Regions from separate parts of the Homo sapiens genome. Here region 1 is linked to region 2. Evidence: fine-mapped expression QTL. A gene starts in region 2. The other region holds a variant in brackets. All regions are shown on one strand. Distances are between the middles of the regions.

What was found. PIP is the estimated chance that this variant, and not a neighbour inherited with it, causes the effect.
Region 1: its variant is the best candidate, but not a certain one, in a credible set for the expression of TTLL12 in whole blood (INTERVAL, PIP 0.50).

What each region holds. Positions count from the first base shown.
Region 1 is chr22:43,161,033-43,165,353 of GRCh38, reverse strand. TSPO (translocator protein) reads right to left here. Exons shown (of 4, transcript NM_000714.6): 3 at 4,164-4,302; 4 at 2,112-2,551. The coding sequence ends at 2,363. Among named protein-coding and RNA genes, the nearest start is that of TSPO, 12 kb to the right of the region's middle. RefSeq lists enhancers at 1,302-1,804, 1,805-2,308. The variant C/A (reference allele first, on the strand shown) is at 2,223.
Region 2 is chr22:43,185,216-43,189,592 of GRCh38, reverse strand. It overlaps TTLL12 (tubulin tyrosine ligase like 12), which reads left to right and starts at 2,459. Exons shown (of 14, transcript NM_015140.4): 1 at 2,459-2,700. The coding sequence starts at 2,524. RefSeq lists silencers at 2,046-2,165, 2,414-2,573, 2,614-2,833 and enhancers at 3,214-3,273, 3,284-3,363, 3,304-3,808.

The sequences.
Region 1 (4,321 bases), 24 kb after region 2:
GGAGTTGGAGACCAGGCTGCCCAATGTGTTGAAATCCCATCCTACTAAAAATACAAAAATTAGCCAGGCATGGTGGTACACACCTGTAATCCCAGCTACTCTGGAAGCTGAGGCAGGAGAATCACTTGAACCTGGGAGGCAGAGGTTGCAGTGAGCCAAGATGGCGTCACTGCACTCCAGCCTGGGCGATAGAGCAAGACTGTCTCAAAAAAAAATAATAAATAAACCCACTCAGAAAGCATCAAAACCTTAAGTTCCCAGTGGATGACAGCAGCTTAGAAAAGGAGAGAATGCTGTCTGTTACGAGCATTTCCTGGGGAAACGTCGCCAGGCTGTTAAAAGGAAGCCGGCAGACGAAATGCTAAATGCGTTCTCCTCTCGCCCATTTTTCCAAGGCGTTTTGTGGCAGTGCGTGTTTTGTGGCCAGCAGGAGCTATGTGGGACATTTGTTACAGATGAACAACCCCACGAGTTGCGGAGATGGCAGAAGTCTGGGTTGCACTTTCTCCAATCCCTAAGTGTCTGGCACGGACTCAGGTGTCCCTTGACACTTCAAAGGATACCCCTGTGCCCTGCGGGGACGGTGCATGCTCACCGGCATGCTGGAGCAGGAGACAGCCTGGCCTGTAAGTTTCTTGCTAGCAAGGACCTCTCTGCCATCCGCTGCTTGGACTGTCTGCACAGAGCTCTGGAGGAATTCAACTCTGGGCGTCTTGGAGAACTTCAGAAATAAGTTAATAAAAAGGATACACAGAGGCTCCCCAGCTGGCTCCTCTGCACCGGTGAGCATCGGGAAAGCCATGAGGGCTGAGGGCTCAGCTGAGTGCCCGTGGCCGCAGAGTTTTTGGATCCTGCAGAGCGTGATCTGTTGGGCATCAAACTCTGCCAGAGTCAAGGGAGCGGGAGGCTGAGGGTCAGGGTGGAGTAGCGCAGCCCCTGGGCGGGAGCCATCCCTTCTGTCAGAAGAATGCAGTCGACTGTCTACCCATTTCCCTGAGCTGTTCGTTCTTTCGTGTGTGTGTGTGTGTGTGTGTGTGTGTGTGTGTGTGTTGTGCGTGCACCAGAGTGGATGGTATAGACAAGAGTCTCCCTATGTTGCCCAGGCTGGTCTCAAACACCTGGCCTCAAGCAATCCTCCCGCCTCAGCCTCCCAAAGTGCTGGGATTACAGGTGTGAGCCACTGTGTCCAAGCTTTTGTGAACGTCAGGTTGTGTCTGAGCGTACAGGTCGGGAGAGGACACAGGAGCCGGGGGAGAAAAGAGGAAGCAGCAGCCGCGGGCTGTTGAGTGATGACGAGCTGTCTATGAACATTTTGCCAATTTGAATGAACTTAGCTGCCAAAAACAAAAAACAAAAAGCCCGGCAGGTCAGGCCTGGCCGAGGGGAGGGAGCCGCGGGCTGTGTTGCTGAGTGCTGCATGGGTGTGGTGACCGAGAGCAAGACGGAGGAGTGCTGCGTATGGGACTCGGCTCATTTACTCCAAACAGCTGCCTGGAGAGGCCATGGGTCACCCAGTTCGAAGCCGGGGTGAGGGAGTGAGTGGCTGTGACACCTCCAATCCTGGCCGCTCTGGGCCAGCAAGGAGGCCCTGTCTGCTGGAGTCGGGACCTAACCTTTCCTGCCTCTGACTCCCCCTCGAGCCAACTGGGTGTTTGCGGGGCTATCCCTGGTGCAGTGAGGCTGCCATAAGCCTGGGCCCCCGGGGGACAGGGCAGTCAGCACCCCCAACTCTGTCCTGGGTAAAAGCAGCTGAGGGCCACGCACTGGGCAGGACCAGGCGTCGAACAGTGGTTGTGGGCCCGGCCATTAAAGGGCCCGGGCTGAGCATCCCGGAAGCCATGGGAAGCGGACAGGACCCCCTCCCTCTGCTGAAGCCCACGGCCCCAGCTGGGTCTGCGCCAGTGTGGGCCCCAGGGTGGCACCCAGGGCTGCTCTGTTCATCTCCTGCAGGGCTTCGGGAGCGTCCCAGGAAGCGTGGGGCAGCCCCAGCTGGATCCAGCCCTGTCTGGAGAAGGCAGCCCAGGCAGATCCTGCAGAGACGAGCTCCAGTGCAGCCCCAGCTCCCCCTCTTCCCTGTGGCCAGGGGTCCCACCCAAGCAAAAAGGCCATGGTAAAGGAAGTCAAAAACTTTATTCAGCTTATAAAATTCCATGTTCCAAGAACATGCTCTAAGCATGCAGAAAGCACAGGACACTGCTCCCGGGTGGGGGCTCAGGTGGGGC[C/A]ACCTCTGAAGCTCTGCTGACCCCTGGGCCAAGGCCCTGACAGACTAGCAGGCCCAGTGGTCATGAAAGCGTGACGGCCACCACATCACAAGCGTGATGGCACCTGCTGGTGCAGCTGCAGTCCCTGGTGGGCCGGGCACTCACTCTGGCAGCCGCCGTCCCCCACGCCAGCCATGGTTGTCCCGCCATACGCAGTAGTTGAGTGTGGTCGTGAAGGCCAGCCAGGCCAGGTAGGGGTAGAGCAGGCGGGCGGCCAGCGGGCTCACCTGGTACCAGGCCACGGTAGTGGCTGCCGCCGCCCCACTGACCAGCAGGAGATCCACCAAGGCCTGCAGAGATTGGGGGACGGAGGATGGGGAGGCCTGAGGCACCGCGTTCACCCAAGTGCCTGTCCCACTGCCCAACTCCCACTGGATTTGGGAGTCAGGAGCCTCACTCACCCCCACTCCACCCTTGAGTGACCTGGCCAAGCCCCTCCCCCATCGCAGCCTCAGTTTCCTCATCTGTAAAATGGGAACAGTCATGCCACCTGACCCATGCCTTGTGTGGGGTGCACATGACATGCCTGAAGTGAACTCGGTTTGTTCAAGGGTGCGGTGGTGGCTTAGGAGGTCTTGCACGTCCCTTCCCCTCTCTGAGCTTAGAGCCTCCACTGAGAGCGATGCTGACCTCCCAGCATTACTACAAGGCCCAAACAAAAACTTGCTATTTGTCAGGTGCAGTGGCTCACGCCTGTAATCCCAGCACTTTGGGAGGCTGAGACGGGTGGATCACCTGAGGTCAGGAGTTCAAGACCAACCTGACCAATATGGTAAAACCCCGTCTCTACTAAAAATAAAAAAATTAGCCAGGCGTGGTAGCACGTGCCTGTAGTCCCAGCTACTCAGGAGGCTGAGGCAGGAGAATTGCTTGAACCTGGGAGACGGAGGTTGCAGTGAGCTGAGATCACGCCACTGCACTCCAGCCTGGGCAACAGAGCGAGACTCCGTCTCAAAAAAAAAAAAATACAGAAAATTAGCTGGACATGGTGCTGCATGCCTGTAATCCCAGCTACTCGGGAGGCTGAGACAGGAGAATCACTTGAACCTGGGAGGTGGAGTCTGCAGTGAGCCGAGATCATGCCACTGCACTCCAGCCTGGGCAACAGAGTAAGACTCTGTCTCAAAAAAAAAAGGCTGCCGGGCACAGTGACGTGACCTGGAGTCCCAGCTACTCAAGAGGTAAAGGCGGGAGAATCAATCGTTTGAGCCCAGGAAGTCGAGTCTGCCCTGGGCAACACAGCGAGTCTTCATCTCTTAAAAAAGTTTAAAACTTTAAAAAAGAAGCAGTCAGCCGGGCGCGGTGGCTTACACCTGTAATCCCAGCACTTTGAGAGGCCAAGGCGGGTAGATCACCTGAGGTCAGGAGTTCAAGACCAGCCTGGCCAACATAGTGAAACCCCATCTCTACTAAAAAAATACAAATACAAATACAAAAATTAGCCAGGAGTGGTGGTGCACACCTGTAGTCCCAGCTACTCGGGAGGCTGAGGCAAGGGAATCACTTGAACCCAGGAGGTGGAGGTTGCAGTGGGCCGAGATCTCACCACTGCACTCCAGCCTGGGTGAGAGAGTGAGACTCTGTCTCAAAAAAAAAAAAGAAGAAGCTGTTATGTAGAGGGGCCAGTGACCCTGCCCACACAGTACCAGGCTTCGTGTGGGTTTTCCTACACAGTGGCCCCCAAACCCACCCCTGCAACCCCTTCTGCTTTAATAGCTTCCCTCACCGGAGGAGTCAGTAGAGGGGAGGCTCCAGGGTGTGGGCTGCTTACAGCTAGAGAGACATGGCCTTTTGTCTCCCCTGGCCCCGCCTATAGACACTGACCCAGTGTCATATGTGATGCCCCACGTCCTCCAAGGGTCGGATCCAGGGATCAGGGACACATGCTGTGGCCACACTTACCCAGCCCATTTGTCGGGCACCAAAGAAGATGGGGGGCCATGCCCAGTTCAGGGCCAGCTGCCCAGTGTAGAGGCCCAGGGGAACCACAGCCTTCTCTGTGAAGCCTCCCAGCTCTTTCCAGACCAGGTAGGAGCCGTACCTGAAACAGAGGCCGCAGT
Region 2 (4,377 bases):
TCAGGTGATCCACCCGCCTTGGCCTCCCAAAGTGCTAGGATTACAGGCATGAGCCACTGTGCCCGGCTATGGAAGGGACTTTTAAACTCTTTTTTTTTTCCCTGTTTCTCTCTCTCCTTTTTTTCAATTGTCTGGAGGGGGAGGGGGTTGGTGGCAGTAATGGGAGCAGAGCAGTAATTTTATGTTGATTAAATACACATTCTTCAGTGCCTCTTTAGAAGACAACATTTCAGCTGAGAAGAATGAGTCAGGATTTACAAAGTGAGCATGGGGAGAAAGGCTTTCTGGCAGAAAACAGAGCACAATGCTTTCCAGGAGCTGAAGACAACCAGAGATACAGGGACTCACAGTGTGAGGGGAAGAGTGTAATGAAAAGAGGCTGGAAAAGTTGGCAGTGCCAGCTCACACAGAGCCTTGGAGCTCAGGTGAAGAGTTGAACCACAAAGGGTTCCAAGTAGGGATCTGATACAACTGGGTTTACATTTGGGGAGGAGCATGTGAAAGAGGACTGCCCTGTCAGAGCCTCACATTCTCCTGGTCAAAGGGGCTGGGTCAGGAATGTTCACATAATCTGACCAGTACCTGACACAACTGAGACTCAGTCTGTCTTCCCCAGCGGGACCGATGGAAGGGTTGTGGAAGCGGGAGGTGCACTAGGTGTGTACCACTATACCTGGCTAATTAAAAATTTCTTTTTGTAGGGTCGAGGTCTTGCTTTGTTGCCCAGCCTGGTCTCAAACTCCTTATTTCAAGTGATCCTCCTGTCTTGGCCTCCCAAAGTGCTGGAATTACAGGTGTGAGCCAGCATGCCCCATCCTAGCATTGTGATGCTGTTTTACTATATTATTTATTTTGAGATGGAGTCTCGCTATGTTGACCAGGTTGGAGTGCAATGGTACAATCTCAGCCTTGGCTTCCACAACAAAAACCGAGGAATCAGGGTTTTCCTCTGGCCATGGTGAAACCCTGTCTCTACTGAATACAAAAAATTAGCCAGGCGTGGTGGCACACACCTGTAGCCCCAGCTACTTGGGAGGCTGAGGCAGGAGAATCACTTGAACCCGGGAGGCAGAGGTTGCAGTGAACCGAGACTGCACCATTGCACTCCAGCCTGGGCAACAAGAGCAAAACTCCATCCCAAAATAAATAAATAAATAAAATGTTTTTCTCTGCAGCCCTCACCAACTTGAGTTTGGAAATTTTTGCCTTTGCAGACCCACCTGCTTCCTACAATGGAATTGAACAAGTCCGTGAATTGGTGCATTTTATTCAAACTCAGTTCAAAAATGTTATCAAAATAGCATCTGAAGCTCCAAAAAATTTTCAGCCTTTGTTTTTTAGCAAATTACAATTCTTACAAAATTGCAAAAAGGAAGACATTGAAATGTATCCCTATGGAGCAATAAAACTCAATGAGAGTTCAAAAGAGAATGTCTTTTGAAATTCTATAACTGAACTGTTTTCTTTTAAAGAGGGAGTCTGGCTATGTTGCCGAGGCTGGACTTGAATTCTTGGGCTCAAGCTATCCTCCCGCCTCAGCCTCCCGAGTAACTGGGACTACAGACGCGGCCACCACGCCCAGCTCAACTGCACTTCGAAACATCCCGACATGTAGGAGTAAATTCCTCTGACGGGTACACTTGGTCTTAATTGGATCAACTGACATTCCGAATCCAAATATAAGTAATTGAGAAGGGCCACGATTTTGCAGCATCCAAATCTGGTGAAACGCTCACAAGAATCGAGAGCTCCCAAGGCAGGGGGCCTGCGAGCTCTGTGTGCCCGGTGCAGGCACAGAAGCGCCGCCTCACCGGGTTCGGGCCCCAGGACACCTTCCGGGCCGTCGGTGGGGCCTTTTCCGGTCCTGACAGCGCCCTATACGTAGGCACCCCGCCCTCCCGGCATTCCCCGGGGTCGCCGCGCGCTGAGCGAGAAAAGCTCAGCCACCATCAGGTGCGCGTGCGCACACGGCGGCAGCCAAACCACAGGCGCGGTCGCAGACGCGCGCCCCCTCCTGGCAAGCTCGCGCGCTCTCGCACGCACCCCGCCGATGCGCAGGGCCTGCCCGGGGGCCGCGGCAAACCGGGCTGGAGGCGGACTGGGGGCGGGGCGGGACGGGGTGAGGGGGCGAGAAGAGGGCGGGGCAGGGGAGGGGTCGGGGGGGCCGGGAGGAGGACGGGGCGGTGGGGAGGGGGGCAGGGGGCGGGGGCAGGGGGCGCGGCAGGGGCGGGGGGCTGGGGGGAGGACGGGGCGGTGGGCGGGGGGCTGGGAGGAGGACGGGGCGGGGGTGCTGGGAGGCGGGCGGGGCGGGGGGCGGAGGCGGGGGGGGCTGGGAGGAGGGCGGGGCGGGGGGGGGCTGGGAGGAGGGCGGGGCGGGGGGGGGCTGGGAGGAGGGCGGGGCGGGGGGGGGGGCGCTGGGAGGAGGGCGGGGCGGGGCAGGGGGCGGAGGCGGGAGGGCAGGGCCGACGGACGGCGGGCGGCGGCGGCGGTGGCGGCGCTGGAGTCGGCGCGGGTGCTGGCGCCATGGAGGCCGAGCGGGGTCCCGAGCGCCGGCCTGCGGAGCGTAGCAGCCCGGGCCAGACGCCGGAGGAGGGCGCGCAGGCCTTGGCCGAGTTCGCGGCGCTGCACGGCCCGGCGCTGCGCGCTTCGGGGGTCCCCGAACGTTACTGGGGCCGCCTCCTGCACAAGCTGGAGCACGAGGTGCGGGGAAGGGCGGCGGGCACGTGCGGCGGCCGGGGTGGGAGCGCGGCGGGAGCCCGCGGCGCGGGACAGGGAAGAGCGCTCCCGGGCGGCGGGAGCCGCGGTGAGCCACCCAGAGCGCGTCCTGGGCAGCTCTGGAGCGGCGTGGAGTTGGGGGCCGAAGAGTGACAGCAGGAGACCGGGGTACCTGCGGCCCTGATCTGCCCGGGCCCGAGACCGGCTGAGGGCTGCGTTGGGAACTTTAGGTCCTCCACACACCCGAGCCTGACACAGCCCTGCGAGGAGTGAAACTCATCACCCCCACTTCACAGATGAGAACACTGCGGCTCCGAGAGTCCCTTCAGAGGGATTCTTTCAGCCGCTGCCTCACAGGGACAACGGGAACCCCGTGAATTTGTGTAGCTGTAACTGTTGGGTTCACAGAATTCGGTGTTTTTTCATTTGATTTGAGCCTCGGGGTCCCCTCATCTTGCAGGTTAAAGAAAACAGGCTGTGAGAGGTGGAGGAGAAATCTAAAGAAAAATGGAAAAGATTGAGAAGCCTCTAGGTTCTCTCCCTTTTTGTGAGGACGGCCCATCCGGCTCACCTGCCTCCTCCACTCCAAAGCGTTCCCCACTGTCCTGGCTGGGGATGAGCCCTGGATTTTTATTGCGTGCCCAGAGGCTGAGGCCACAGCACCTTCCCGGGCTGGCGGGGGGGGGGGTGTTTTCTTTAGCTGGGACCCGACATCTCCTCCAGGTGCTGTCTCCCGGACGGAGATGAGCCTAGTGGCGCAGGTGATGAAGTGGAAACCCCAGAGCCAAGAACAGGGACCCGGGCCGGGAACTAGGAGTCCCTGAGCCTGGCTGCTGGCCAGACTCTACGGTCTCTGAGCCAGTTTTTCTCTGTGTAATCCTGATTGGACTAGGAACCTTCCTGCTGGAAACGTGCAGTGAGTGGCACCTCCTTATGCTACAGTGTAACAGAGAGTTTCCTCTGCCCCTCACTTCTGCCATATGCTTTCCGAGGACCACTCTGGTCCCAGGCCTGTGCTGGGTGGAAGGGACCTTGGTTTGTTCATGAGGACAAAAAGGTTCCCATGGGCTGCGTGGAAGGAGCACAGTGGGAATGACCAGCTCCTGCCCAGCCAGCCTCCACGGCAGCACGCCCTCCCTCGGGCGGTCACTCGCCCGTCTGAGACCTGTTCTCCATCTGGGAAGGGGATGGTGAGACACCATCTGGCTCCCACAGTATTGGAAGGATGGGAGGTGGCATGAGAAATATGCCTGGCACACAGAGGGTGGTCGCCACCGTGCCACGTCCCCTGCCCAGGCCGCCTTGCCTGCTGTTGCCCTACTAAGGGGCAGCCAGTGTTTTTCCGTGACCCTTCCCCAGCCGTTAAGGACAGAGCTGAATCACTGCTTTACCATTCACAAACTTGCAGCTCTTCCTGAGTGAAGCCTCCTGCTGCTACTGGCCCAGGTGTGGAGGAGGCCGCCAGCAGCAGCAGCACCTGCCAGCGCTGTGGGCCCTTACACCCCTGGCCATCAGCCCTCCTGCCTCACCTTAGGCCGGCTGCCCTGGAAAGGATGGGGAAACTTGAAGATACATACATATATATATATATATATATATATATATATATATATATATATATATATATATAATTTTTTTCTTTTTTTAATTGAGACGGAGTCT